7 separate regions of the Homo sapiens genome follow, and all the other regions are linked to region 2. The links come from fine-mapping of genetic effects on gene expression. Tissue or cell type: whole blood. Region 2 holds a variant in brackets; each other region holds the start of a gene. Each region is shown on its reference strand, or each on the opposite one.

Region 1 (4,069 bases), not on the chromosome of region 2:
GCATTGGCACGATCTTGGCTCACTGCAACCTCCGCCTCCCGGGTTCAAGCGATTCTTCTGCCTCAGCCTCCCGAGTAGCAGGGATTACAGGTGCATGCCACCACATCCGGCTAATTTTTGTATTTTTAGTAAAGACAGAGTTTCACCATATTGGCCAGGCTGGTCTCGAACTCCTGACCTCAGGTCATCTGCCCGCCTTGGCCTCCCAAAGTGCTGGGATTACAAGCATGAGCCACTGCACCTGGCTAACCTCCAAGTTTAAAGACAGCCGCCAGGCCCAGTGGCTCACTCCTGTAACCCCAACAACTCAGGAGGCTGAGGCCAGGAATTTGAGACCAGCCTGGGCAACATAGCGAGACCCCGGCTCTAAGAAAAATAGGCCAGGCACGGTGGGTTACGTCTGTAATCCCAGCACTTTGGGAGGCTGTGGCAAAAGGATTGCCTGAGGGGGAAAAAATCACCCTGGGGGTAGTGGTGCACACTTACAGTCTCGGCTACTTGAGAGGCTGAGGTGGGAGGATCATTTAAGTCGGAGGCTGCAGTGAGCTACTATGGAGCGACTGTATTACAGCTTGAGCAACAGAGCGAGACCCCATCTCCAAATAAATAAATAAAGATAGCCTCCAAAGATGTCACTTGCTTCACTTAGCACTTTTTATTGAACATATTTAGGAAATATATAACCATGGTAAAGAAAATTGCAATTAGTACAAATACACACTACACACATATGCACGTGCACACACTGAAACGTGTCCCTTCCAGCGCCTCCTGCCTGGATAATTTTTTTTTTTTTTGCAACGGAGTTTTGCTCTTGTTGCCCAGGATGGAGAGCAGTGGCGGGATATCGGCTCACTGCAACCTCCTCCTCCCGGGTTCGAGCGATTCTCCTGCCTCAGCCTCGCGAGTAGCTGGGATTACAGGCGCCAGCCACAACACCCGGCTGATTTTTGTATTTTTAGTAGAGACGGGGTTTTGCCAAGTTGGCCAGGCTGGTCTGGAACTCCTGAGATCCGCCCACCTCGTCCTCTCAAAGTGCTGGGATTACAGGCCTGAGCCACTGCGCCTGGCCTAAAGTAATTGTCTTCTTATTGGTTTCTCTGCCTTTGGTCTCACCAAACGCCCCACTCTAAATCACTGCAGACAAGGGGTTCTGTCTAAGGAGGAGAGCCCACCAGTTAAAACCCTTCAGTAGTTCCTAACTACCCTAGGACAAATGCAGACTTATCCTTCGCTCTCTGCTGCCGCCCCTCTCCTTCCCAGATCCCATATGGCTCCAGCCATATCCTCAGACCATCTGGGCTGTTGTCTGTCCTGCCACACACCCTTCCCACCCCGCTCCCTTGCAAGTCCTACTCAGGCTGCACCTACACAGCTGTCTCAGTTTCTATCTGAGGCTCCCGCAGCCTCCTCTGAAAGTCCTCATCACAGCCAATGATACTGAAACTGTTTTCTTATGCAGGGCACGGAAAGATCTATTCAACTCACTGCCCAATCTCCTCTCCTGGTGCAGAAAAGACACCCAGTCAGCGACTTGCATTATCTGCAGGCATGAGTGAATAATAATAATGCCTAACCCTTATATAGTGCTAATTCCACGCCTGGCACTGTTCTAGGCACTCATATAAATTCATGTAATCCACACAACCCCAAAACTGATGATATCTCTTCATCTTACCAAGCACTGAGCAGTTAAATAACTTGCTCCAGATATTAAGGGGTCGAGCTGGGGTTTGAAGCCTGGTTACCCATAAATGAACCAAGAACTGGAAGGAGGACAAGAGCTCCGAGAAGGAGTCAGGTAGGGCGTGATCTGTGCGCTTTACATCTAAGATCTTCCAGCTCCCAGGGAGCCCGTTTCATAGAGCAGGAGATAGAGGCTGGGAGGGACACGGAGAGCCTCGAGAGCCGTGTGGAGGAAGCGGTGCTGTTTGGGGTCCGGGAGCAAGGGCGTGGCCTGGATGCGCGGGCGCCCGGGACGGCACGTCCTCAGACCAAACTACAACTCCCAGGACCCAGCGGGCGCTGCCGCCCACGCGACGTCACGGCGGCGGAGGGCGCAGGCGGCTGGGCGCCTGGCGAGTGGACTGTTCGAGCCCTTCCGCTGGGACCCGGGCCCTGGCTCCGGCCCCGCGGTAAGTGGGGCGACCCCAGCCTACTCAGTCCGCGGAGGCCCCGCGGCGCACGTCCGCAGCCTCCATCACAGCGCGGGCGCGCAGACGGGGCTGGCATCTACCATATGGGGGGCATCCGGGCCGAACCAAGTGACCCGCGTGGGGGGTCCCGCTGGGGACTCCGTGCCGCACCCTCCCAAGCCGGCCCCAGGGGCCCAGGGCTGGTGTCGCACGTTCGCTGGCCGCGCTCCCAGGGCCCGGGTTTGAAGGCGCTGGGCAGGCAGGGGCAGCCCCGCCCCCTGAGAAGGGTACCCGGGACCCCGGGGCGCTGGGGCGAGGTTTTCGGGCTGGAAGGGTCTGAGGGGCTCCTCCCCCGACAGCCCTCCCACCGCCAGTAGAGCCTCGGGTTGGGGAATAGAAGCCCCCGGGAGGCTAGGTCCTTTGGGCGCGGCCTGTGTGCATCTGGGGAGACGGTGGGAGTGGTGGGGAGAGGTCGCCCGGGTCTGGGGAGACCGATGCACAGGTGGAGAGATGGTGCGGGTTCTGTGGATTCGGATCCTTACAACTTCCTCTTCCCCGCCCCGGTAGATGGGAGCTGCTCTCCGCGGGCTGAGCCTGTCAGCATCCTCGACGCACCCTGGTCCCTGAAGTCGGAGAAGAGCCCCTACCCACCCACACCCCCTTGCCCCATTTTGGGTCGCCTGGGTCCTCAGTCCTAGCGGATCCTCAGTCCTAGCGGCCACCGGGTCTGAAAGGAGCAAGACGATGATCCTGGCGTCGGTGCTGAGGAGCGGTCCCGGGGGCGGGCTTCCGCTCCGGCCCCTCCTGGGACCCGCACTCGCGCTCCGGGCCCGCTCGACGTCGGCCACCGACACACACCACGTGGAGATGGCTCGGGAGCGCTCCAAGACCGTCACCTCCTTTTACAACCAGTCGGCCATCGACGCGGCAGCGGAGAAGGTGCGCAAGGGGGCAGCCAGCCCAGGGTCCGGGATGTAGGCGGGAGGGAGAGTGTTGGGGGTTCTCTGCTCAAGGCCTCTCTCCCTCTCTAGCCCTCAGTCCGCCTAACGCCCACCATGATGCTCTACGCTGGCCGCTCTCAGGACGGCAGCCACCTTCTGGTAAGATTCACGCCCTCTATTTTCCTCGTGGATCCTGGAGCTCTCCCAGACACTCAGGCTCCAGCCCCGCCTTCCCTTCTCATTTTCTCCCAGAAAAGTGCTCGGTACCTGCAGCAAGAACTTCCAGTGAGGATTGCTCACCGCATCAAGGGCTTCCGCTGCCTTCCTTTCATCATTGGCTGCAACCCCACCATACTGCACGTGGTAAGGTAGAGAGGACCTTAGGTCAGCGGGCCACCCTGCCCCGGGGGCAAGTGGGGAGTCTGGGGCCCAGAGTGGCAGACGATTGCTTGCCTAAAGGTGTCAGGGCCACACAGGATTCAACCCCAGGCCTTCAGAAGCCAAAGGTGTGTATTCACGGAGCCTGGAAGGGTCGAAGTGGGGGTTTGATCACGTGGTCGACCAGCTGGGTGGTGATCCCCATGGGTAGGTGGGGGTGGCTGTTCTCTGCTCAGTGCCCATGCGGCTTTGTGAATTCCCACACCTCTTCCTTGCAGCATGAGCTATATATCCGTGCCTTCCAGAAGCTGACAGACTTCCCTCCGGTGAGTGCTGGGCCAGAGCAGGGTGAGGGGCTGAGAGGTTGGGCTTGGACCACCCTTCCTCATGACTCTGTGACCTGCAGATCAAGGACCAGGCGGACGAGGCCCAGTACTGCCAGCTGGTGCGACAGCTGCTGGATGACCACAAGGATGTGGTGACCCTCTTGGCAGAGGGCCTACGTGAGAGCCGGAAGCACATAGAGGTTGGGGCAGCAAAGGAGAGGCCGGGCCTGCTGGGGGTGGGAAGGGCACGGGATTCTGAGACCTCACTCTTTACAGGATGAAAAGCTCG
Region 2 (4,000 bases):
GGCAGAATTTTGACTGCTTTTGCAATATCTCTGTGCTCTCCAGTTGAACTTGGTGGCAATAAAATTAAGAATCTGCCAGTGCCCCCCAAGCATTTCTACTCTGTCCATAATGTTTAGTGACAATTAACTATTACCAGGTGTAGCCACCCTTACTTAATCTTAGTGTTATGGTGCAAGTAATCCTTAGTGAAATTATTGTTCTGTAGAGAATGCTGTGATCTAAGTGAAGTGACTTTCATCCTGAGATGACAATGGAGTTGTTTTTGTCACTGTAAAGGCTGCATTTACTCGCAGTTTTAAAGCATTATTGCTACTTATATATGGTCTCAACACTGATTTTTATATTTGACTTTGTAGCTTTAAGTGTAAAAATTTCTGTTAAGGTTTTATATGTGTTAGTTAATTTTTCCCATTTCAATAACCATGTTTTATTATTGATGGAGTCTCCTAAAAATATACCCTTAAAATCTGCTTGCCCTGTGCCTGCACACATATTTTAAATGTTGGGTATGGAGTCTTTTTTTTTTTTTTTTTAGACAGAGTTTCACTCTGCAGCCCAGGCTGGAGTGCAGTGGTGTGATCTTGGCTCACTGCAGCCTCCACCTCTTGGGTTCAAGTGATTCTCCTGTCCCAGCCTCCCAAGCAGCTGGGATTACACGCCCGCCACCATGCCCAGCTGATTTTTTGCATTTTTAATAGAGATGGGGTTTCACCACGTTGACCAGGCTGGTCTCGAACTCCTGACTTCAGGTAATCCACCTGCCTCAGCCTCCCAAAGTGCTGGGATTACAGATGTGAGGCACCGTATCCAGGCTGTATGGAGTCTTTCTAATCAGGACATAGGCAGACAGTCCTAGCCCAGCTTTATGCCTTATGAGACGCAACAACGTTGAACAGTCATTGTTTGAGGGACAGAGGTTTTACAGATGGATGATAACTAGCATCTGTGGAACATTATTTGTGAAATATAGAAATCAGAAATTCCAGCGTAGCACTGTCCAAGGGGAACATAATTTGACCTGCATATTTGCTGGTCCATTTTTAGTAGTCACATTAAAAAAGAAAAATGACACAGGTGAAATTAATTTGAATATATTTTCTTAATTCAGTATGCTTAAATATTATTTAAGTATGTACTCAATATAAGCAATTGTTAATGAAATATTTTACTCTTTTTGAACTATGTGTTTGAAACCCCGGATGTATTTTTTTTTTATCTTCACCACACATTTCAATTTGGGTTGGTCACATTTCAAGTGCTCAGGAGTCACATGCAGCTAGGGGTTACCTATTGGACAGGCAGGCAGATCTTGAGAGCTCCAAAGAACTGTGTGTCATTATATTGTGGAAAAAAAAAAAACTTTTTAGATTAACCCTTGTTGAATGTTAGCCAAAGACTAGTCATTTATCAACTCTCTAAAAGTAGTTTTTAAATCAATTTGCTTTTCAAAACATTTTCTCAGTGTTGTCACAAATGTATGTGAACATCTGCTTTTTAAGTCTTTCATTTTTTGCCCACATTTGATGTAAAGAAAATCTAGGTCCAGTCCAATTTTAACATCAATTGGGTTTATTTTATGTAGCTGTGTTTTAAGTACAGGTCTTGTACTTGTAGGCATTTTGGTTAAGTACAAAGTAACGAGAATACAACAACATGTGAACATGTCAAACAAATCAGTTTTTCAAAGCTAAGTAGCTGAATTAAATGTAGAAAAACATGACATTTAATTTTTGTCTTCATCCCTTCATTGTATTCCCATGTACTCTATGGTAACTTTTTTAAGTTGGGAAGTCCTCTTTAAATTTTTGAAATGAGGTAGCTGCTTTATAGACATGAGGCAGGTTCCCAGAGAGCGCCCTTGAGGACAGGCTGTAAGTAAACTAAGCTGCAAAGACAGACACCATCACAACTATGGAATTGTTTTGCAAAAATTGTGGAGAGTGATGCCCCTTGATACTTCCTAAAAGATGCTTTTGCAACCTGAT[A/G]AAGCAACCGAGGAGAGGTGGTGAAGGAAAGGCTTTTTTTTTTTTTTTTCAAAGAGAGAAAGAGAAGCAGCAAGCTGCCTGCCTGCAGCCTGAGAAAGCAGTTCCACCTTGGCACCCATGTCCTCATAGCCCAAGCGGGGCCACCCTGGCATGTGAATCTGCTCCGCAGTGTGCAGCCCAGACCCCAGCCTTCCTGTGAAAGGGACACCTCCTGCTGCTAACCGCTGCTCTTCCTGCAGTTCAGGAGACAGCGTGTGCTCCTGTGGCGGCTGCATTTCCTGAGTACACCATGATCCAAAAAGGCACAGATTCGTCATGGAAGCTTTGATTGGGCCGTTACTGTCTTTTGACCTTTCTTGTTTGCTTGCCCTTTTGTTTCTTTCCTCCTTTTTCCTTCCTTCCTGTCTTTCTTCTTCCTTCCTTCCTTTCTTCCTTTTTCTTTTTAATTTTCCTCCTTTCTCTTTCTCCTTTCTTTCCTTCCTTCTTTCCTCTTTTTTTCTTTCCTCCCTCCCTCCCTTTCTTTCTTCCTTCCTTTCTTTCTTCCCTCCTTCCCTCCCCACCCTCCCTCCCTTCCCCTCGTCTCCCTTCCCCTCGTCTCCCTTCCCCTCCCCTCCCTCCCTCCCTTCCTCCTTTTTCTTTCCCTTTCCTCCTTCCTTCCTTCCTCTCTTCTTTTCTCCATCCCTTTCTTCCTTTTAACATTTGATCATGGGTACCATTTCATCAAGATTCTGTTACTTAGGTCCAAGGACTAGTGACCAAATTGTTTTTCCCAGGAGTAAACTTTTCTACAAGACATAGAGAAATGACTGCCAGTGCCATCAGGCACACCATCCTGTGTGATAGGTAACCTAAAATAATGGTACAGCGGGGAGTAACTGGAAGAGTCACAACTACACAAATCTCTTGCATTTTCCTGATCATTAAATGAATTAGGGATTTCCTGGTTTGAGATTTGTGGACAAGGAGAACTACTTCTTTGTACAAGAGGCTTGTGCCAGGAGAAGACACGCTGTGGTTACAATGTTACTGTCTCTAGCTATGGTCATTTCATGTCTTTAACTGAGTGTACCTAGAGTGTAATACAGTGCAGCAGTGATGGGCTGAAGGCCTAATGCACCAGCACACATGCCTGGAAGACCTAACGTTGAGAATCCGCATTTTTTTCATCACTCACATTTATTTTGCATCTCCCTGTTTTGATTACCTTCAGAGACCCAAGCACTTGCTTTTGTATATTTGAGTCTGGGTTTTATTTTCCTTTTAGAAATAGTCCAAAATCCTTTTAGAGCCTAGACCTTTGAATAAAGTGCTAACTTAACCTGAGGAATGCTGTTTTTTTGTTCACAAATAAGGCTTAATTGTGAAGTCGTGAGAATTGCTTTCTGAGCTGACTTATAAATTTACCCACCTCTTTTTCCCCAAACCCCCAAAAAATCCTCCAGAAGGTGAGCCCAGCTTGTTGTAAAAGATTTTGAAGCAGAAGTCCTGGGTTTAAGCTTCAGTTCTCTGCCTTACCAGAATCGGGATGTGTGGGGCAGGCCTACCTCCTCTTTCTTCATCTGCAAAATACATTGAATGAAATCATATTTTTTCCTAAGTATATGACATGTAAAGTGGTATTTCAAAAACTCATTAATCTGCATGACCAGGTCAGAAAAGACACACCTTTTGCCTTGTGTCTAGTGTGTGACTGTCCTCACATGTAGATGACCCAGGCCACATCCGCTGATGTTGTCTTCCTTTACTTCTTTGTCCCTTCCAATGACTCCTTTATGAAGTCAATCAGCAGTGTTTCTAAGCCAGGTTCCTTCTCTTCACACATCCCCAACCCACAGGGCAAGTCATCCACATTTTGCCTCTCTATTTTTTGTGCTTTGGGAAACACATTTTACAACTTCCAAACTATTTGCCTAAGTTCATCTGAGCACATCTAGAATTATTCCACTCCTCTGCATCAGTGCTAAAAGTACAATCATGTATAAGCTGTTATACTCCCGTTATTTTGTACCTCATG
Region 3 (4,076 bases), not on the chromosome of region 2:
CATTTTCAAGCCACCTCAATCCTTGCACTTTTCAGTTACAAGTCAAAAAAGTCCCTTCTTTCCACAGTTGTTCAAGGTGGGTTTCTGTCACTTGCCACTAAGAGTAATGACTAACAGCCGCCCCTCCCATCCTGTTAATGTTAATGTCATTCATTGGAATACTACAATAAATCCTGTTTGCTGATTTGCAAACTTGCTCATAGTCTCCCTCCTCCTTCAACTGATATTTATAAAGCTATGCAGCTGACTGTGAAGAATATTTTAAAAGCAGAATTTCAATAATGTTTTTATCTTCTCCCACAATATTCTAGGCAATGGTAATACTGTGGAATAAAAGTATTATCTACTTCAAGAGCCATCATCATCTAACGCGGCTTAGTGGTGAAATGGTTAATTGAAAATTTGGATTTTGATCTGAAACCAAACATGTATTAATTGTTTTACTTGCCATAAATTAGCTTACTTATCTATAAAATGGGGACGATACTGTGAGGATTCAATGGGATGATTTATGGACCTAAATTAGCATAGCGTGGGATGCACAGAATATGTACCCAGTAAAAATCAGCCATTAAGAGTTTTAGTATGATGGCTAAAAATCACTATACTTCGTAATGACATTGTATACAGATTACACTATACATGAAGACTACGATTAACAGTTACTAGCTTTTTTGAGAAATCTTCTATTGTATACCTTTTAGTCTAGTTGCAAGGTGACATTATATAGTCTGTAGAAACAGATTCCACCTCTGGTTGGTTATACTAGTTTATGAATTCAGGGCTCGCCTACTGTAGAGCATTTCAAGTTTTGCAAATGGGACTAACCTCTAGTAAGACATTAAGTAATAAACAGAACAAACAGTGCTAAAATAGGGCAAAAAAAATCTGTGTTATCAGGGCAAAAGAAAGAAAAGCATGGTCACTCACAGTTTCTCTAATCGGTAATTCATTGAAACAGTAAGGCTTATCTTCACAAACACAGCAACAAATTTTTAAAAATGGAGACCTCACCTCATGAGATAATTGGTATAAAATTAGGACCAAGATACACGATGGACATGATTTTACCACTTTTTTTCTTAAATGATCTCAAAATTAGGTCTGCGAAGCCAGTTTGTCACACGCACAATTAAGCAAACAAAAAAACTTCAGCAAAACAAAGAAAAATTGTTAATTCACCCAGGTTATTCCAGAAAAAGCAAGTGTTGTGCCTGAACCTTCCAGATTTACAAACTGCCTTTTTCTTTTGCTGGATAAAACGAACCTAAGGCTAACATATACAGTGGATGGATAGAACTTAAAACCATGAAAACCTTGGGTTACTTAACTTATCCTAGTTTACTGACCATTACCTAGGGACCTGACTTCTCTAACAGTTGACAAAGGAAAACAGTATTTACACAACAAATCCCAACTTCCTGGTTTCATCCAAAAAGGGCTGTTTGAAGTCTCCAAAGGGCCAAGGGCCTAAAACGAAACAAATTCCGCCCTACACAGAAAAGCAAAGTCAACATCATCCTGTTACGACCTTACTAGCGACGACAAGGGCCACCGGCGACCGTGCAGCTGTGCCCTTAACGCTGCGCAGCTGCCGCGCGCCTCGGCCGGGTGTTTATGGCACACGAGGGGTGGAGAGCGCCCCGCCATGGGGGCGGCCGCCTCAACTACCGCGAGGGCGGGGCGCGCTCCCCAAAAGCTCCCAACTAGCTCCAAGAGCCCCGAAGTCTAACTTCGAGCGTCAGGGGGACCTAAAGATTGTAATTCATCTGGATAATACTGCATAATATTAGACGCTGAAATGCCTGGGGGACGCTTGAAAAGCTCCCCGACTAACTGGGAGACGTTTCCGCGGGCCTAGGTAGACATATTTTTCAACTCAGCTAATCTTGTTTACAAACGGAAGCCTTAGAAACTCTAACCTCGGCAAACATTAACTTCAGGGAAAGGCTGTAAAAACCAACTTGCGGTAACTCAACAGGTTATGCGCACCCGTCCCGGCCTGCGACCGCCGCATCCAAAAAGCGAGAGGGGAAGCACCAGGCAATTTCCTCAGCAGGCGGCCCCGGGGCCAGCGGGTGACTGGTCCAAACCTCAGTTTCCCCCACCCCGCCCGGTCACCTCTGGGTCCGCCCCGAGCGTTCGGCCAGACACACGCGGAACTTTCTGTACCAGAGCCCAACTTGGGAACCCAAGCCTCGGCAGCGCGCTGCCTCCCACGAACGGGGCTGACGACCCCCGCAGCCACTTACCCGCCATGGCTGCGCTTTCATGGGCGGCCCCCAGCAGCGCTAGCACCTGCAGCGTCCCCAGGAGCAGCGCGGCCCAAGCACCTCGCGCGCCGAGTCCCATTGTTCCGAGGGCAGGATGCGGCAGCCTCGTGGGCTCCCAGCCGAGGTGGCGGCGGCGAGAGCGGCTCCTCTGCGCAGCCGGCGCCGGCTCCGCTTCCCCTTCGGCCGCGCACGTTTCCCCTCCCGCCGCTTGCCCCCCGAATGACCAAATAGGGCGCAGGAGCGGGGCCTGGAGGGGGCGTCGCGTGCGCAGCCGGGGCGGCGGGGCCGGGCTGGGTGGCGCGGGGGCGGGCTCGGGGTTCTGGGCGTGGCGACTCGGCTCGCGGCCTCCCTCGCAGGCGCGCGCTTGGGAACCCCAGAAACCGCGAGCCGTTTCCTTTCTCTTCGGAAATGGCAGTTTTGTTGTCCTGGATGAAGGCGAGCGCCGCTGCCTCCCTGAATGCTGAGCACGCTGGCTTCGCGGTGCCCGGAAGGAAGCCTTTGAAGAGTAGTTTTGCGGGCAGGGAGGGGACAGGGGTGCGTGCGACTCAGAGTGAGAGGGAGGAGTTGCAGGGCAAAGGCGGGAGGAGGGGGAGATTCTGGAGAGGAACTTGAGGGGATGGGATTCACTCTAAGGAGTCCTGGGCGGTCGGAGCTTTCCCCTCGCGTGACCCAGCCTAAGGGGGAAGTGGAGAAAAACAGCTCGACAGATTTGTTGCTTAAATTCAAACGTAAAACACCTACGATCTTCTTATCCCAGTTGTACTTCATCTTCTCCACGGGTTCCCTGTATCTCTGATTAAGACACGAGATTAGTGGAGTGGGCGGGTGGGGGCGCGCGCAGGAGTTGGTAGCAACTCTCAGTGAAATACAGTAGAGCCATGGAAAGCGGGGGCTGCATTAATCCAACCAGCCTTTTCTCTCCTTGTGCCCTGCTGTCCCAGTTCAGATGAAATGGCCAGTTTTGAACAGTTTTTGGCTGAGTTCCTTTTAAACCCTTGGAGCCAATGCTAATCACTTGTCTTGACTTGAAGTGCTTGTAAAGTCTGCATTTTCATCGTGCTCAGAACTCTGAAGTGACATAGCTACCTGTGGCTAATGCATGAGAATAACAAAGGCTGAGTCCTGGCTTGGGTGGGAACCCTCAGCTGAAGTAGAAGACTGAAGGATCCAAGGAACCTAAAATCACAGTGAATCCCCACCTGCAAAGGTCTTAATGTTGCAGATCTTTGGCACCTGAGCCAGATTTCATCACATAAAGGCCACATTGCAGTTAACTTTTGAAAACTGTGTTATGAGAGGTAGAACTTTCTCATGTCAGGCAAATCCATCATTACAGAGGTCTGACTGGTCCTAGAGATTAACTGAGACAATCTGTCCTAAATTTACAGAGACTTCCATCTGTGGATTCAGTCAGCCAACCTGCAAATGTTTCCCCTGCAGCTTATCATGGACAAAAAGCAAGCATTGCACATTTCGATTTTGGTTATTCTATTTAACTGGGGAATCTGGTTTAGGAATAAACCGTTCTGGTGACTACCCCATTATCCAAGCATTTCCCAATCTAGGCCCAACCTGTCTTTCCAGCCTTGGTTCTGTTGCCCATGGAGAAGGGTGCTTTCTGGTTCCTGGCATTTGCATACGTTGTTCTTTCCTTCTGGAATTCTCTTCACCAACCCACAGCTAATACTTCCTTTAAGGCTCAGTGTACTTATAGCCTGGGAATCTGGGGTGGAATAAGAGGTCTGGATGTTTATATCCCCACCACATTCATGTGTTGAAACCTAATCCTCAAGGTGATGATAA
Region 4 (4,076 bases), not on the chromosome of region 2:
GGTGGGGTTTCACTATGTTGGCCAGGCTGGTCTCGACCTCAGGTGACTCACCTGCCTCGGCCTCCCAAAGTGCTGGAATTACAGGCGTGAGCCACCACGCCTGGCCACAATATAAATTTTTTTGAATGAAGGAAGGAATTAACCGACAGAGATTTATATGATGATGTTACAACCTCCTTTTCCATATAAGCCCATCAGACAGCCTAGAAATAAAACACTTACTAAAAACAGTTCAGAGAAGTCTATCTGTGAAACTGTCGGTATGATGTAATTCTAAAGAAAGTTAGGGGGGGACCCCCAGACTATATGGAAGGCTCAGTCTGCTTTTTAGTGCTAGTTTCACAACAAGCAAAATAACCATAGTGTCTCTTGAGAAATAAGCACTAATTTTAGAACTAATAAGTACTAATTTTAGAACTCCATATATTAATGGTTTATAGCCTCTCCTTTCTCAGTGGCAGGACTGAGAAATAGGAGCTTGCGGTATGAAATCAGAATACCTGAATTTCAGTCTCACCTCCATCACATATTAGCCATGTGACCTTGGGCGAGTTGTTTAACCTCTCTTTGCCTCAGTTTCATCACTGGCAAAATGTCGAAACTAACAGTAGACTCCCTCAAAGGGATGGTGTGAAAATTAATGACAACATATTTAAACCATTTAGAATAGTACCTGGCACTTCGTGTTTTAAAGTGATAGAAATATACCATACTTGCCTTATATCCTCTATTGGTAAATTCCATGTTAAGGGCAAAATTTCTTTTTTATATCGCACCAGGGTACCTAGCACAGTATGTAACAAATACTAGACGCTCAAAAAAATGACATGCATTATATTTGAGGTAAATAAATTGAATGCACAAGAAAATAAAGGTATTTTAAAAATGTAAGTGCAATTAATATAAATTAAAGGGCTCTCGACATATCATTTGCATATCTTCAATTTTTCCTTATAATTAGTTGCTGGCTATCTTACGATTTTATCTTTTTCTTGCCCTCTTCAAAGCATGTAGTTTGGTGTAATGCACATTATAGCCCTCAGAATTGCTGGCCTTCTGACAAGCTAGCTGTTTGGATATTGTGAGGGATGAGGTTGCTGCAGCAAAAAGTGGGTTACACGACAGCACAGCCTCGCTGCTGGAGATGAAAAACCAATAATCCCAGAAAACAGCGCATAGGGTAGGCTGGGCCAGCCGAGGATTATGTGAAGGTTCGTTGGGACCCTCCGGAGGCCAGTGGGGTACTGCAAAGGTGAGTGCCCCAGTGCCAGGGGTCGTGAGCCCGGAGCCCTGCGGGGGACGGCTGGTAGGCCCTGCTGGATGAGTCATTCTCCCCACCCCGGGCACGTGCTGGTGGCGGCATCCACCCGGACCCCGCCTTCCCCCCACCCAACCCCCGGCGCGGAACGCGAGCGGTGAGCGGCCCCAGCGCCCCCAAGGCGCCCCCTCCGGGCCGCCTCCTCCGGGCGGGCACTGTCCTTGCCGCAGTCGGCCGCTGGCGCAGTCCCCGCGCCGCAGTGCCGGGCGCTCGTGGGGGGCGCCCACGGGCACCTGGGCCGTCTGCTCATCGGAGCCGTCCGCCGTCCTCCCGCATTCCCACGGCGCCCCACGCCCGCGCGCCCGTCGCCGGTCACCCGCCGCCCGCGGAGCCGCGAGGGCGTCTCCTGGAGGCGCAAGAGGACTGGGCGGGGCGGGGCGCGCCCACCGGCCGGCCCAGGGCACCTCGCGCGGGTGCACACGCCGCAGCCCCCCGGGGCGGGTGGGTGTGCTCCGGCCGCGCGCGCCGCCGCCGCCGCCGCCGCCGCCGCCGCCTCCTCAGCCTGCCGCTCCGCCCGCGCCGCCTGCTGCCGGCGCTCGGCCCAGCACGCCGGCTCTCGGGCTGCCGTGGGCTGCGCGGGGCCCGCGGTGTGTAGAGTCCGCCGCCCCGGAGCCGCGTCCCGCACCCGGACGGTCCCGGTAAGCGGGGGCGGGGGCGGCGGGGACCGGGCCGTCACCTGAGGGGCGGGTCTGCGGCCGCGGACAGTCCTCCGGGACTCTGAGGTGCTTGTGTGGGAGCCGCCTCCAAGGTGGCCCCCCTGTGTCATTGGATGAACCCCAAGTAGCTGCTGCCTCTACGCCTTGGGGGAGTCCCTGAGGTGCTGTGGGGAGCCGCCCCCATAAAGACCCCCTGTGGGAATGGACTCCCGCGGCGCTGTCTGCATTTGCTGCCATAGGGAGCCCCAGCGTGGAGGGGACTGGCCCCAGAGAGCCCTTCTGTGTCACTGTGGGAGCAGGCACAAGGGTGGTCTCTGGAGCTGGCTCAATGGAAGACCACCTGGGAACATAGGGGAGCCGCAGGAACCTCGAGGTGGTGGAGCCCCCAGAGGGCTCCCTAGAAAAGGAGGACCTGAGACTGTGCCCTAGAACTGTGGGAAGCAACCTCTGACTGGGGAGGGGGATCCTCCCATGGGATCCATGAGTGACTTCCCACGGCTCCAAGGACTTTGGCCTCCACCGGGATCCCTGTAGGGTTCCATGTGCCCTTACTTGTATCCCCACACCGTGGCCCAGAGGTGGGGGCCTTCTAGGGCTGCAGCCTCTTTCCATTCCTCCTCTTTCCCCATTCGGATTTTTCTTCTCCATGGTAGCCCAGTTGCTCCACGCTGCATTTTAGTGGAGACAGAAACTGCTGCGAGAGCACAGGGCCCTAAGCCGAGGATGAGGACCAGTGAGGCCTCTAAAGCAAAGATAGGAGATTTGAGCCCCTAGGTTTGACCGTGCGGAAGGAAGCAGTAAGATCAGGTGGAATAACTGACTTTGGCAGGTCCTGGAGGGAAAGGCCTTTGAAGGAAGGAATAAAGGATGTATGGGATTGTTGAGCACCAGTACGCTAGGCAGTATACTAGGTATGTTTAAACATCTCATATAACTCTTACAACAGCTTTGTGAAATTATCCCCTTTTAAACATTGAGACTCAGAGAGGTTTAGCAATTTGCCCAAGGTCACAAAGCTGATGAAAAACATAATCATAAAATGTTTTTCAAATTTTATTTGGGAAAAAGTACTAAGGAGCAGCAGAAGAAAGAATAGATATTTGTTAATAAGTTGCATTAAGGTGCCTGCCGAGCATAGGGTTTTGCAGTGGTACAAGCTCAGTAAATGTGATGATTAAATAAGTGGATGAGGACAGTTTAACTGGCCATGAGATTGCTGCAGGAACTGATTTCCACAGAATCCCCAGATTTCAGGGTGTGGCTTCCTTCACTGGCAGTCCCACTGTCATGATGCCTTGGGGTGGCTCTGGACCTAATTGAGGCCTCTGGGTGTGGTTTTTGACAGGGCTTTCTCTGGGGATCTAGGGGGACCCTTCTGCGGATGGAGTGTCCCAAGACCACCCTACCTGCTACCGAATACTCGAAGGAGAGAAAGGAGAGACAGGATCACTTTTAGGAAGCACGATCCACACTGTCCTTGTGACCCTCTGACTACATGCACCGGTGGACAATGGTCCACAGATAGCACTCAGGACACTTTTGCCCAAGAGTGCCTCTGCATGAGGAGGAGGAGGACAGGAAAGGTGCAGAGCCAAGGAAGGCTCACTGGGAGTCTGTTAGGGGGAGCGCAAAGGGTCTGCGCCAGACATAGTGTTGCCTCCTCATCTCGCCCCCTCGTTGTTTTCATTCTAGCTGAATCCCAAGAGTTCAACTTTGAGCTCCAAGGATGGATTCTGGTTTCTTGTCCAAAAACGGAGTGGTGAGAGGGCCAAGCAATGATATTCATTAGAGCCATTCTGGAAGGGTTTTCCTGCTCCCCTTCCCTGCTTTCTTCCACACAGTCAAACCTAGTTAAATCCTCCTTGAACAGAAGTGGCTTCCTTTGGCTCCTGGAATTACATAGTGAGGAGAGAGACCAAGCTAGTGGGAAAACAGAACAACATAGTTTACCAGTTGTTAGATTTTTTTTCTTTTAACTCAGTGATGCTACCTTGCGCGCAACTCAGTGGAGTAAAGCCCGACAAAGGTTTTTGTTGGTTAGGACCTCCCCATTGTAAAGTTGTTTATAATCCCCCTTTCAGTTCAAACCCATCTGATCAGCT
Region 5 (4,076 bases), not on the chromosome of region 2:
CCTACCAGGGACTCGTTCTCCTCACCCATCTTTATGGTCCCAAAATGCACCCAGGGCCCCCCTCTCTCCTGGGGGGCCTGAATGCAATGAACTTTAAAGTGGATCATTGATCAACAGTCCCTTAACCCCACCAAAGTTTCCCAAGCCTCTCCCCTGCTCATCAGGGGGCTGGCCAGAGGTCACAGGGACTCCCTGGGGGTGGTTTTTATTCCCAGGAACAGGCTTCCTCAGTCCTGAAAGGGACATTTTTATAGCCCTGTGAACACAAATGCACTCCCCAGAATAGGCTCTGGGTGTGGAATCCCTCCTGTGGCTGTCATGGTCGCAGGCTGGTGATTACATTATACAGTGGTGTTGACAATAGAGCCCTAAGCCTGGCATGGACACCCCCTCACCTCCCTCCTGCCTCTCTGTAGGATCAAAGCTGCTCTGTGAGGCTGTGTGATCCTGGGCCAGGAGCGGGGAGTCAGCCTCAACCCTAAGCAAGGAGGAAGCATCTTTGCCTGAATCCTTCTGGGGGAGGCAATCCCCCTTCAGAAGTCCCTAGCCCAGGTTCGAAGGTCGGTAGGGACTGAGAGGTTGGCAGCGGATGGGGAGTGGCTAAACCAGAAAAAGGGGGCTTCCTGTTGATGGATTGATGGAGGAGGTCCAGGTCCACTGCCTGGTTCCCCGTCCCTCTCCCGCACCCCAGCCTGAGCTTCCCAAACTCCCACAGAAGCCCCCACCCCATGTGGGACACAGAGGACCTGCAGTAGCAGGAGGGCACAGCTAAGAGAGGAGACAAGAGGCAGCTTGGGGGCATGGGGGGGACCCCATTTCCCCAAATGTTGGAGCCGCCCTTAAGGGAACTTCCCCTGGACTCCTCTGGAGGTCTTGCCAGATGGGAGAACCAGGGGTCCATTCAGACCCCAGTCTCTTCTCTTCCCATCTCATCTCTCCACCTGGGGGGCTCAAAGAACCTAGCTCCTCCCCTTTGACCCCATCAGCTTCTCCCTCACCGAATCCTCTTACAATCCATTTCTTAATTCTGCCCCATCAACCCTCCCTGGTCATCACATAAACACCAGCAAGGGCAGTAGTTTAGGGACAGCTTTGCTCTGTATTCGAAGAAAGGTCTTTGGTCTGCTTAGAAATTAAGTTTGGAGCAGCCTGGGAGGAAATAGAAGAGATGAGACCCAGAGAATCAATGGCCACTGCCAAAGAGAGATAGGAGAGCCTTTCTGCGGCCACTGATTCAACAAACGGCATCACACGCCCCTCAGCCTCTCATCTCTTCGAGGCCATCTCCACCCCCACCCCCACCCCCACCCCAAGGCCATTCCAAGGTCCCATTCAAGACCACTGCGCAGGGGTGGCGCCAGAATGATCAAAGTCATCATGGGGCACTCATCTTTGTGTGGGTCAAGCACTTTGTGGTGTCGTGTCCCTGTTCCCAAACCAGGGACCAGGAGTAGGATGGGGGAGGGGCAGGGCGCCGCTGCTGAGTGGAGAGGACGCGGAGTGGGTGAGGGGGCCTTGCGCACAGGGCAAGAGGTGGCCAGGCAGGGCGGGGGACCGGGGAGAGCGGAGGATTTCAGATGAGGGACAGGGGAAGGTGGAGAGGGGAGGGCAGGCCCCGCCAGGGGGAGGAGCCGCCTCCCGCGTCCAGCTGTCGGGGCTCCCTCCCGTCGCGGCTCCGCTATAAAACCCAGGCCGGCAGGATCGCTGCACCCGCGGCGGCCTCCTCGGTGCGCGACCCCCGGCTCAGAGGACTCTTTGCTGTCCCGCAAGATGCGGATGCTGCTGGCGCTCCTGGCCCTCTCCGCGGCGCGGCCATCGGCCAGTGCAGGTGAGCTCCCGGGCTCCGGCCCCAGGTGCCCCTCGGCGGTCCCCTCCGTGCCCCCAGCTCCCGCCCCTGCAGAGGATCCCCCCGCGGGCGACCGGTGAGCGTCGGTGGCGCTGGGGTCCCGGGTTGCGTGTGCGCCGGGGGCCGCGAGGGTGCGGGAGGACTGGGCAGCGCGCGAGCTTGTGTGTGCACACGCGTGTCAGCACCGGCTGGGGGAGCGTGTGCACGGGTGTGCGCGGTGAGGGTGTGTGCGCGTGGCCCGGCGAGACGAGTTGGGAGTCCCTGATAAGGATGCGTCTCAGGCCGGGCGCGGGTGCTCCAGCCTGAAATGCCAGCACGTTGGGAGGCAGAGGCGGGTGGATCACCTGAGCCCAGGAGTTCGAGACCAGCATGGCCAACATGGTGAAATCCCATCTCTACCAAAAATACAAACATTAGCCGGACGTGGTGGCACACGCCTGTAATCCCAGCTACTCGGGAGGCTGAGGCCCGAGAATCGCTTGAACCCAGGAGGTGGAGGTTGCAGTGAGATCACGCCACTGCACTCCAGCCTGGTGCTCCGTTTAAAAAAAAAAAAAAAAAAAAAAAAAAAAAAAAAAAAGGATGCTTCTCGGACCCGCCTCAACGCACGCCTTCTTTTCTCACCCAGCCTCCTCCGTCTGCCCGTGGGTTTCCGTCCGTCCCGCTGGGACTCAGCGCTGGGTGACTGCCCCGCGGCCAGAGCAAGGGCGGTCTGGCAGGGTCCTGGAAGCCGCGCTTCCCACACGGGTTCCTTGCCCCTGAGGGTCGCAAGCTCCCCTGGCCTCCCTAACCTCCAGCGCTGAATTGGGAGCCTGGCGGGGGCGGGGGGTGGGGGACCCGGAGCCCCAAGGCCTCTGCGGAGCCGGTCTTTCCGGACAGGGTGATTTTCGTTTAAAGATTAATGGTGAAGCCGAGCTCTTAATTATTCCTCTAGGTGGGAGGTGGCAGGAAAGGCATGTTAATATTTGATAAGAAGCTAAAGGCGCTTCAAGCGGCTGGGCACAGGGATCCGATCCTGGAGGCACCTTCTTTGCAACCCCAGACCCCATCACCGGAAGACCCCCTCTGCCAGTTCTCAGCCCAACCACCCCTCGGATGGTTCTTGGGGTCCACGCAGGCTGAAACCTCCTCTCCCAAGTTAGGTGCTCCATCCTCAAAGCGGCGGAGTGAGGGGTGAAGGTGTCCTCTGCACAGAGAGGAGCCAGCGTGTGCCCTTTGCAGCAGGGACTGGCTGAGCTGTCTTAGAGGGTCGAGGGGCACCTTGCAGCCTCTCCACCGGGCCCCTGGGAGAAGAAAGAGAAAAAGCAGAATGTGGAAACTTTTATTTGTAGGGTTGGACATTGGAAACCTACTAAGCAGCTAGAAAGTAGAAAGAGAAATGCTTTGCAGTTCTGGTGCTTTGTAGCTGTGTGGTCTTGGGTAAGTCACTTCCTGTCCCATTTGCAAAACAGGTGTTGTCATTCTGACTTCAGGGGTTTTAAGCGTTTGAATAAGATAATGGGTTTAAGTGATTAGTGCGGTGCCTGTGTGGCACGTGGCTGGTGTGTCATATACCAAGTTTATGGGGCTCTCCCCCAAGCCTGGGGCCAGTGTCAGGAATGTGTCTCAGCTCACCCCTCACACAAGCTGCTATCCCCTTTAGTGCCAAGGCTTTCTGACTGGGACCTGCCTTCCATTCATCTTATGGAGGACTCAAGCTGAGAAGGGACCAGGTTGCATATGGCGACCCCCAGAGCATCTCTGTCCATTGAGACAAGAGGCCGGGTGAGGATATTTGGTCCCCTTCAGAGCCCCAGACCCCTGGCCGGGAGCGACTGAGACTTTGCCCAGGAAACACTTGGGTTGTGCTGAGCTGTTTTTCAGGATTATCCCCTGTCCCTCAGAGGGGGAGGTGGGGTGAGCAAGGTCCATTAGAGAGGCTTCTTCAGCCATCTTGAAATAAGGGGGAGGGGTGGCAGGTCAGTCAGTGTGGGGGGCAGTAGCTGGGTGACAGGCGACTGACTTTCGGTCTCTAACCTCTGGTCAGGGTGGATGGACTAGGTAGGATGTGGCGCTGGACACCGAGACCTCTGGGTAGGTAGCCCCTCTCCTTCCCAAGCCCTCTTGGGAGTGGCCTGAGTCAGTGGGCTGGTACTTACCTGCAAGGGTGGCCCTCTCATTCAACGAAGACAGGAACCTGAGTGGTGGGTGCTCCTGCCACCAGCACCCCACCCTCATCCACCGACATGGA
Region 6 (4,076 bases), not on the chromosome of region 2:
CATTGTGGGTCAACAGAGAGAAATTCAGATAGCTAAGAGAATGGAAGCGGACAAAGGAGGCACAGGAGGATTCCATGCCAGAGTCTGAATTGGTCACCCCCATTCAGGCTCTGCCTGAGGAAAGGAGAATGGGGTCCGGGCACAGTCAGCTGGATGGAGCGTCTGAAGACGGCTTGCACCAGAGCCCTCCGTGGCTGAAGGGAGAAGCTAGGGGGTGAGTCAGCCCCAGGGCTTGATGGAACAGACAGGAACTAGATGATCTAGGAAGGGAGAAATGAGGCTGAGCAGGAGACAGCCCAGGCTCCCTGGCTGCCACTACCTAATCTGTCCCCCTTCACACACATCCCACACACAGTGTTTAGACAGAGCAGCAGAGAAGAAACAGACATCCTGGATCCCACAGGGAGCAGGCTGGGGCTGGGAACAGGAGGTCTGTTTATTCCTGGAAGTCACATATCAGAAGGGTCCCACACCCACTTCTGTCCAGGCCCCAGGCTGAACTCTCCCAGAGCCTGTGACTTCTGCCCGACCAGATCCCGTGGTTCTGAGGACCGGCCCTGGAACCCTGCGTCCTTCCGACCCACCAGCTCCCTCGAGGATGGACTTGAGGCTGGATGCTTTCCTCTTCCCACTTTTTGTCCCAACAGAAGTCCCTGATCTCCAGGATCCCTGACTGGCTGTGCAGAGCTGGCACAGCCACACTCCACGGGCTTCCAGCCCTTCAGGCCCAGCTCTCCCGGAGAGCACCAGAGTCCCTTTGCTCCATTTACTTGCGCTCTTCAGCCAGCAAGTGTTTCCTAATGTCTCACCCCCAGTCCCAGCTTTCCTGCTGCAATTTCCGCCTGTTCCCTCCCATTTCAGGCCTTAAGGGAGTGTGGCTGGGCTTCTCTCCTCCCCCTCACTCCAAAGCCGCACTTGATACAAGGTGGAAATCAAAGCACCACTTCTGGCTTCCCAGCCTTGAACTTGCCCTTCCCTCTCAATGTATCTGGTTTCCTCAGCTTCCCTGTGCAGCAAGAGTGTCACTCCCCTCTTGCTTTTCCCAAGCTCCCCATGCGCCCCTCTCAGCAGATCTGTCTTAGAGGGGCCAGGTGCAGAGAAAGGCAGAAATCCTAATAATGTTCCCAGCGATCGCTGCCTGTCGCGGAGTGCTGAAGGGCCAAGTGTTGATCTGAGTCCTCATCACACGGGACTTCATTTAGTCTCACGATAGGTGAGTACAACTATGGGCCCCATTTGACAGATGAGGAAACTAAGGCAAGGGAACTTTAGTCATTTGCCCAAGTTCACTGGCTTTTTTAAAAAAGGATCCAGACAGCTCTGATTCCAGCGCCAGCTCATGCCTCTTCATCATGGGGGAGGAAAGAGAGGGAGCCATTTGTTGGGGCAAACCCCCACCCATCAAGGGCCATGCACTGGGGTATATGCCGCCATATGTGTTATCCTGTGATATTCCCCACCACGACCTTAATTAGAGGTGGTTTTTCTTGTTCCCATTTTAACACAGGCAAAAACCGAGGCCCAGTAGTACCTTACCCATGGTCACATCCCCAGAGCCATTTGTCCCTCATAGTTCAGAACTTGACTCAGAAAGCAGTTGAGAAAAGTGTGGAATGACCCCAGATTCAGGAAGGCAAGTCTGGCCTTAGAAACTGAAAGGCCCATCAGGTGATGGGATGGGGGAGTGAAGATCCTCAGGCCCCAAACACCTGCCACTGCCACCATCACACACGGAAGTGTGGAGGGAGCCTGGTGTGCTGTCAGCTGGCTGGCCAGTCCAGGGGCTTAAATGTAAATGCATCAGCTGAGGCGGGAAGTCGGGAGGGGTAAGTCAATCATTATTATTCATTAACTGGAATGCATTTCTCAGATTACTCCGAGCTGGAGTAGGGAAACTGCCACCTAGGTGGCAGGGGGAGAGGGGAACTGGGTGGGAGGGGGAGGCAGGCCTCCCAGTTGCTGCAGTTTGGAATATGTCAGGTCCCACCCTCCCAGAGGCGGGGCCAGGGCTGAGTCCTGCCAGCCTCATTTCTCTATCCCTCTGAGAACCCAGACGGGCAGAGCCTGGGTAGGAGAGCCTGGCCCCGCTGTCCCCACTGGGTGGAGACACCATGCACTTGGTCCACTTGTGCTCTTCAGCCAGGACACCAGACATGGTCCAAACCGCTGCAGGGCTGGCTGCAGCAACTCCCTGACACTCAGGAAGGCCCAGGCTGGGCAGGCAATACCTGCTCCCAACAGCCATGTGAGTAGCTACTCCCCCAAACCCCCAAACCCCAGATCCTGGAGAGGCTACTACACCCAGCCCAAGCCACCAGACCCTCGGGGGTGTGCAGGTGGTACAGCCTGCACCCTGCTGGGAAATCACCCCTGGGGGCTGCTCCCTGCCTTTGTCGCTGTTCTAGTGGAGGTGGGTTGGGGGGAATCATTCCGATTAGGGCTGGGAGCTCCAGCTCAGGCCAGGTTTGGGGTAATGGACCCTGAGTCTCACGGGACTTAAGAGAGTTGATGATGCCCTGGGAAAGGGAACAGAAACTGCAAGGCCTCTAGAGAGGAAAAGACATCCTGGGTGGAGGGCACTGGAAGAGATTGAGAAAGAGAAAACATGCTTAGGGGAGGGGAAAGGGGGCATAAGGCCTTGGAGGCCCAGGCTCAGGGTGCTGGGGGAACCTGGGAAGGAAGGGGAGCATCTTCCTTCCTCTCAGCTCAGGGCAGCCATGGGGCCCTGATCCCCTGTCCTGGAGGAGGGGAGAGGTATGAATCCTTTCCTTATTGACTTGGATCCTAGCAACAGCAGCTGCTCCCCTGTTGACAGAAGCAGGAGTTCCCACAGGACCCAGGACCCCTCCCCCTGTCCCCAGGATGTGGCAGCAGAGCCATGACACTGGAGGACTGAGACCAGGGAATGACGGGAAGGACAGGGACAGATGAGAGCCACAGAGAAGCCAGACTCTGCCCAGACTCCTCTTCCCTCTCCTCTGGGCTCAGCCTCAGGCCTGGGGGTGTGGGGGAGTCCCTCTCCTTGCTGCTGGCATCTCCACGTTCACTGCCACACGTGCCCTCCAGCTGCTTCTCTCCTCCCTCCAGCTCCCAGGAAGGACCCTGTTGCTAGTGTGGAGCAAAGACGAGTCAAGTTTATGGGCTGGAAGTCCTACCCGGAGGCTGCTCACTGAGCTGTGATGGCTACAAGGACAGATGGGGGGAAGGGTGCAGGGTGCCCGAGACCTGGCCCGCTGGAGCCTGTCACCTAATGGCTGGCTGGAAGACCACTACACACCAGCCAGCCCTGGTCCATTCTCTCATTTAGAGGCCTCCCCGGTGGAGGCAGGGATACACAAAATGCTTTGGGGCTGGATGGGCCCGCCTTTCAGTCTAAACAAGAGACCTCAACACAGCTGCCCAGAAAAGGCAGATACCAGAAATGGATAAAGCTGGCTGGGTGGGGACTGTCCGAAGGGCAGCCAGCAGTGAGCTCCGGCTGGTTGCTACCACACAGGACATATGTGTTGCCAGACCTGAATTTTCAATAGAAACCAAAGATAGTTTTTTATATAAATGTTTAATTGGCAATTAATTGAAAAATTCTGTGTATCAGCGAACATGATACAGCCCACAGCCTGCGGGTCTGCGCCCCTGGATTAACATGCTGCCCTGCCAGGAGGACACGACCTGCAGCCCCATCCTAACTCTGGCCACCCCATCCTGCAGGCATGCCGGCTGCCGCTCCAGGACTCCCCTGTCCCCAGGACCAAGATGACGCCCAACAGCACTGGCGAGGTGCCCAGCCCCATTCCCAAGGGGGCTTTGGGGCTCTCCCTGGCCCTGGCAAGCCTCATCATCACCGCGAACCTGCTCCTAGCCCTGGGCATCGCCTGGGACCGCCGCCTGCGCAGCCCACCTGCTGGCTGCTTCTTCCTGAGCCTACTGCTGGCTGGGCTGCTCACGGGTCTGGCATTGCCCACATTGCCAGGGCTGTGGAACCAGAGTCGCCGGGGTTACTGGTCCTGCCTCCTCGTCTACTTGGCTCCCAACTTCTCCTTCCTCTCCCTGCTTGCCAACCTCTTGCTGGTGCACGG
Region 7 (4,076 bases), not on the chromosome of region 2:
CTTTTTTTTTTTTTTTTTTTTTGAGACTGAGCCTCACTCTGCTGCCCAGGCTGGAGTGCAGTGGTGCCATCTCAGCTCACTGCAACCTCTACGTCCCTGGTTCAAGCAATTCCCCTGCCTCGGCCTCCCGAGTAGCTGGATTACAGGCGCCACACCTGGCTATTTTTGTTTTGTATTTTTAGTAGAGTCAGGGCTTCACCACGTTGGCCAGACTGGTCACGAACTCCTGACCTCAGGCAATCCACCTGCCTCGGCCTCCCAAAGTGCTGGGATTACAAGTGTGAGCCATCGCGCCCAGCCAAGATTCATCTTAACTAGCCTAAGAGGGCCAAGCAGAGCAGTGATCTCAGCAGGACAGCCACCCGTTAGTGAGCCCCACATGACGCATCCTATGCAGCAGCTGAGCTGCGCAGCATCCATGGATGGTACACTTTATTTTATAAGTGAGGAAACAGATGCTTAGAGAGTAAGAACTTGACTCGTGGAGGAGGTCCAGAATCAGACTCAGGCAAGCCAGGTACTCACTACAGGCACAAAATTTAAGGGGGTACCAAAAATGCAGTCAGATAAATGCCTTATTACAATATTTTAAAACATCAAAACAAATACAAAAATCCCTAATGTACAAAATCTCACATTTTTAAATAAAGACAGGATCAGTGTTCCTGATTTTTCCTGTTGCCTCAGACTCCAAGATGGCACAGCATAGGGGCAGAGCCCAGAAACCAGCCCAGCTCAACCTTCTCCACCAGCTCCACACGACACTGTCTCTAGATATCTTTCTCCTCACAATTTTATAACCTCAATAGGTTCTTAGGATGACCACAGTGCTCCATCATTCCAGGTGTGCGCCCGTGGGACCGAGCTCCAGGGAAAATACCAGGGGTCTACACAGATTCTAGTCTATGGTATATGCAAATGAAGGAAGCCTGCAGGCTCCAATAACCTAGTAGGATACCTTAAGACCAGTTTGGGAAGGTGTGAGCTGGCTCTAAAAGGGTAACACAGCTGCCTGTCTTCCACTTGGATTTCCTGGCTCAAAACTGTCAACAGGACCTGATGCCTGCAGGCGGTTTGCACCTACACGGAGTCAAATTCACACAGCCGCACTGCTTCTGACTTGCATTTCAAAAGCAAGTGACTATTATGCTCTGATCACATGTGAACTTCATACCGAATCTTTGCCTATGATGAAGCTTCTGTTCAACAAATATTTGTTGATTAAAAATGTGAACACTTCTTAGATCAACTCCAGAATCCCTCCCGGGTGGCGTGTAATCAAAGCCTAAAACCTGTTAAATAAACCATCACCTAAAGCATAAGGCAGTTCGTGAATGTGTCCACTCCTTTCCCCTGCAACTGCGTGTGGAGACAGTGGGCATAAAGACCTCGTATGCTAGCAATTTCAACCGAGCAGGACCTTCTCTCCCTCCTCTTTCATTTTCCTGGCGCGTAAACTGCTGGATTTGCCTCACAGTGGAAAGTTGGGTCCAGCAAAGTGAGCAAAGGGAAACTTTGGGCACTTGCACGAGCGCGTCCGGCTCCCCCTCGGCCGCAGGAGCTGCCCAGGGCTTCGGCGGCGGGGGTGGCGCCTCTCCGGGTCCGAGGGGCCCCTGGCTTCACGGCCTCTGCCCTCGACCCCCTAGCCCCGGCCCGCCCCACCTCCGCCCGGTGCCCCCGCGCCCACCCCGCCTTCGACCCACGCCTGCCTTGGGACACGCGATTTCAAACCCCTCGAGGTACCTGGGACAGGAGCGTGGCCCGGGCTCGGCGAGACGCGCAGAGAAGGGCACCTTCCGCGGGGTGCGGCGAGCCGGGGCTGCTCCCGCCGCGGTGCGCGTCTAGCCCCAGCCCAAAGCCGGGGCGACGCAGCAGGTGGCCGCGCGGCCTCCAGACAGCCCGGGTCTGCGGCCGAAGAGCTGGACGCGGGCGCTGACACTACCCTCCCGCGGCCGGCCCGGCCCTGCGCCCGGCGCGCTCCCAGCTCCCAGCTCCCAGCTGCAGGCGCGCCGGCTTCGCTCGGCTCCGCTCGGCTCGGCGGGGGCGGACGCCGCTCAGCTCCCCTCGCCGGCCGCCGCGCGCACCTCCCCCGCGGCGCACAGCTCCCAACGCCGCCTCCGCAGCTGGCCCGGCGGAGTGGGGCCGAGACCTCGGGGCGGGGGGCGCAGGCGCCGGCCTGGGCCTTGGACGCCCCGCGGGAGGCGGGAGGGCGATCGGGGTGCGGGGAGGGCAATCGGGGTGCGGGCCCGGCTGCCCAGCGCTCCCTCCCAAGCCCGCGCCGCTCCCGACCCGCCTCGGCCTGTCCGCGCAGCGGCGCTGTCGGGGCTCCGGGAGGGCCGGGGGGCACCGGAGACCCGGAGGTGGTGGCAAGTCAGTCCGGGACTGGCCCAGGGCACCCGCGCGCGTCGGTGAGAGGGACCCGGGACTCCAGGTGACCTCCGGATCCGCCCTCTAAGTCAGTGGCCTGCGGCGGGCGTGGGCGCCGAGGGAAGGAAGTGTGCATTTGAATAAAAGTAAAAGTTTGTTATTGTTGTTGTTTTATAACCCTGTGGGTCCTGAGCGTCTCCAGGCTAATTAGGGAAGCTGCCGCCCCGTCTGGAGGTGATTCATGGGTGTGACACCGGCGAGTGTGGGAAGAAAGGCAGCTGATGCCGTCTCAGCTGCGCTCGCCTTTCTTTATTTTCTTTCTTTCTTCTTTTTTTAAAATCCTTTTTCTTGTAAAGACAGGGCTGGTCCATTTAGGGAGACCGCGCACGGAGGGAGCTGCCTTGGGTGGTCGCCCAGCGAATCTCCTCCGGAGCCCGAGCCGCGGCTTTGGTCTGCGGATGGCACAGCCCGGCGACCCCGTCCCGGCCTCTTCCCCGGCGGTGCACGCCCAGGGCCAGGCAGGCGAGAGGCGCGGGAGTCGCGTCCCAGCAGGGAGCCCAGGCTGCGACGAGTCCTCAGGGGACGCCTTCAACCCAGGCTGGAAGAGATGATACTAACGTCAGACGGGGAGTCTCGGGTGTCACCGGACGCCAGAATGAGCGGCGAGGTCCGCATTGTTTGGAGGGGATCACGCGGAATCCGCGCTACTCCGCGGGACGCTGGGTCCGACGGCTAGCGCCGCGCACACTGGAGGCCTGGAAAAGCCGAGCTGCTCGGCTGTCGGAGGCCGAGAGGGCCTGGACCCCGGAAGGAGCTCTCTCCACCTGTGGCTTTCAAGGGGCTCAAAATCCCAGATAGAAGAATCGAGCGAAACGAGGCCCAAGACAGTTTCCCATTTACTTGGGCATATCAAACGAAGTTTCCTTTTTGAATTTTTAATGTTATCCCTTGGCCACAAGCTATTCACGTAAAAGCCTCTTTTGATGGTTAAGTGCTTTAAGTTCCCTGTATAAAAAGAACAAAAATAGTGATTCAGCCTTATAACCCCCCCCCAAATTAATAACCTGCATTCACAATGAATGGGTGACTCATGACAATCAGAGACAACGAGTTTGTTGGGTGTCTGTGTGTTTGTTTTTTTCAAAATCCTCAAACTAAACTGAACAACTGCAAAAACTATACTCCCCTCTCTCCTCTCCCACCTTGAGCCTCTGCTCCTTGCTCTTCAAAATCATGTTAGTTTTTGCCGCTGTAACTACTAAATATTTATGGACTCCATAAACTGCCTTTCTACCTAAGAATTTCGTTTCCAGAATATCTTAAACCTCTGGCTTTATTTGTATTCTGTGGGTGGCTTTTGAAGTTCCTGGAGGTTTTCAGAAGACAAAAACCGAGGTTCCTGGTGATTAGTTAAGGCCGAGAACATGGTGTCAACACTCAAAATAGAAACTGGTGGGGAATTTTGTGAATAGGTTGGGAAAATGGAAAATTATCTGGAGCCTGGTAGAGCAAGCACCTTCATGCTTTAAAAATGTGGAAAGAAACTGTGCCCCTCCCCTACCCCTGGGACTTTCATCTTCCTGTGAGAGCTCTGGTTCCCAGGGCCCTGCCAAGTGGCTGGCAGTCAAGGAGGCTCTTCCCCTCCTTAATGCCTTTTGGATCAAGCCTTGAAGCCAGGTTAAGAAAAGACTAAAATGTTCAAGTAAGGA

What was found. PIP is the estimated chance that this variant, and not a neighbour inherited with it, causes the effect. A credible set is the group of variants that fine-mapping cannot tell apart.
Region 1: BCKDK starts here. The variant in region 2 is fine-mapped to the expression of BCKDK in whole blood (TOPMed, PIP 0.99).
Region 3: it holds the start of TMEM123, and the variant in region 2 is fine-mapped to the expression of TMEM123 in whole blood (TOPMed, PIP 0.97).
Region 4: it holds the start of PHF24, and the variant in region 2 is the best candidate, but not a certain one, in a credible set for the expression of PHF24 in whole blood (TOPMed, PIP 0.90).
Region 5: CA4 starts here. The variant in region 2 is fine-mapped to the expression of CA4 in whole blood (TOPMed, PIP above 0.99).
Region 6: GPBAR1 starts here. The variant in region 2 is fine-mapped to the expression of GPBAR1 in whole blood (TOPMed, PIP 0.95).
Region 7: it holds the start of CRACDL, and the variant in region 2 is fine-mapped to the expression of CRACDL in whole blood (TOPMed, PIP 0.98).

What each region holds. Positions count from the first base shown.
Region 1 is chr16:31,106,345-31,110,413 of GRCh38, forward strand. BCKDK (branched chain keto acid dehydrogenase kinase) reads left to right here and starts at 2,042. Exons shown (of 12, transcript NM_005881.4): 1 at 2,042-2,135; 2 at 2,703-3,074; 3 at 3,167-3,235; 4 at 3,329-3,439; 5 at 3,733-3,780; 6 at 3,861-3,980; 7 at 4,057-4,069. The coding sequence starts at 2,880. RefSeq lists enhancers at 1-158, 1,766-2,659, 2,660-3,552 and a silencer at 1,895-2,434.
Region 2 is chr7:50,340,629-50,344,628 of GRCh38, forward strand. The region is part of intron 3 of IKZF1 (IKAROS family zinc finger 1); the gene reads left to right. Among named protein-coding and RNA genes, the nearest start is that of IKZF1, 38 kb to the left of the region's middle. The variant A/G (reference allele first, on the strand shown) is at 1,987.
Region 3 is chr11:102,450,272-102,454,347 of GRCh38, forward strand. It overlaps TMEM123 (transmembrane protein 123), which reads right to left and starts at 2,494. Exons shown (of 5, transcript NM_052932.3): 1 at 2,253-2,494. The coding sequence starts at 2,352. It overlaps TMEM123-DT (TMEM123 divergent transcript), which reads left to right and starts at 2,648. Exons shown (of 2, transcript NR_135053.1): 1 at 2,648-2,778. RefSeq lists enhancers at 1,498-1,547, 1,728-2,017, 2,748-2,857 and a silencer at 2,338-2,627.
Region 4 is chr9:34,956,446-34,960,521 of GRCh38, forward strand. It overlaps PHF24 (PHD finger protein 24), which reads left to right and starts at 1,840. Exons shown (of 8, transcript NM_015297.3): 1 at 1,840-1,956. RefSeq lists an enhancer at 399-538 and a silencer at 1,888-1,967.
Region 5 is chr17:60,148,265-60,152,340 of GRCh38, forward strand. CA4 (carbonic anhydrase 4) reads left to right here and starts at 1,709. Exons shown (of 8, transcript NM_000717.5): 1 at 1,709-1,828. The coding sequence starts at 1,771.
Region 6 is chr2:218,258,972-218,263,047 of GRCh38, forward strand. GPBAR1 (G protein-coupled bile acid receptor 1) reads left to right here and starts at 2,044. Exons shown (of 2, transcript NM_170699.3): 1 at 2,044-2,245; 2 at 3,709-4,076. The coding sequence starts at 3,754. RefSeq lists an enhancer at 2,491-3,296.
Region 7 is chr2:98,934,195-98,938,270 of GRCh38, forward strand. It overlaps CRACDL (CRACD like), which reads right to left and starts at 2,031. Exons shown (of 10, transcript NM_207362.3): 1 at 1,744-2,031. RefSeq lists a silencer at 1,198-1,398.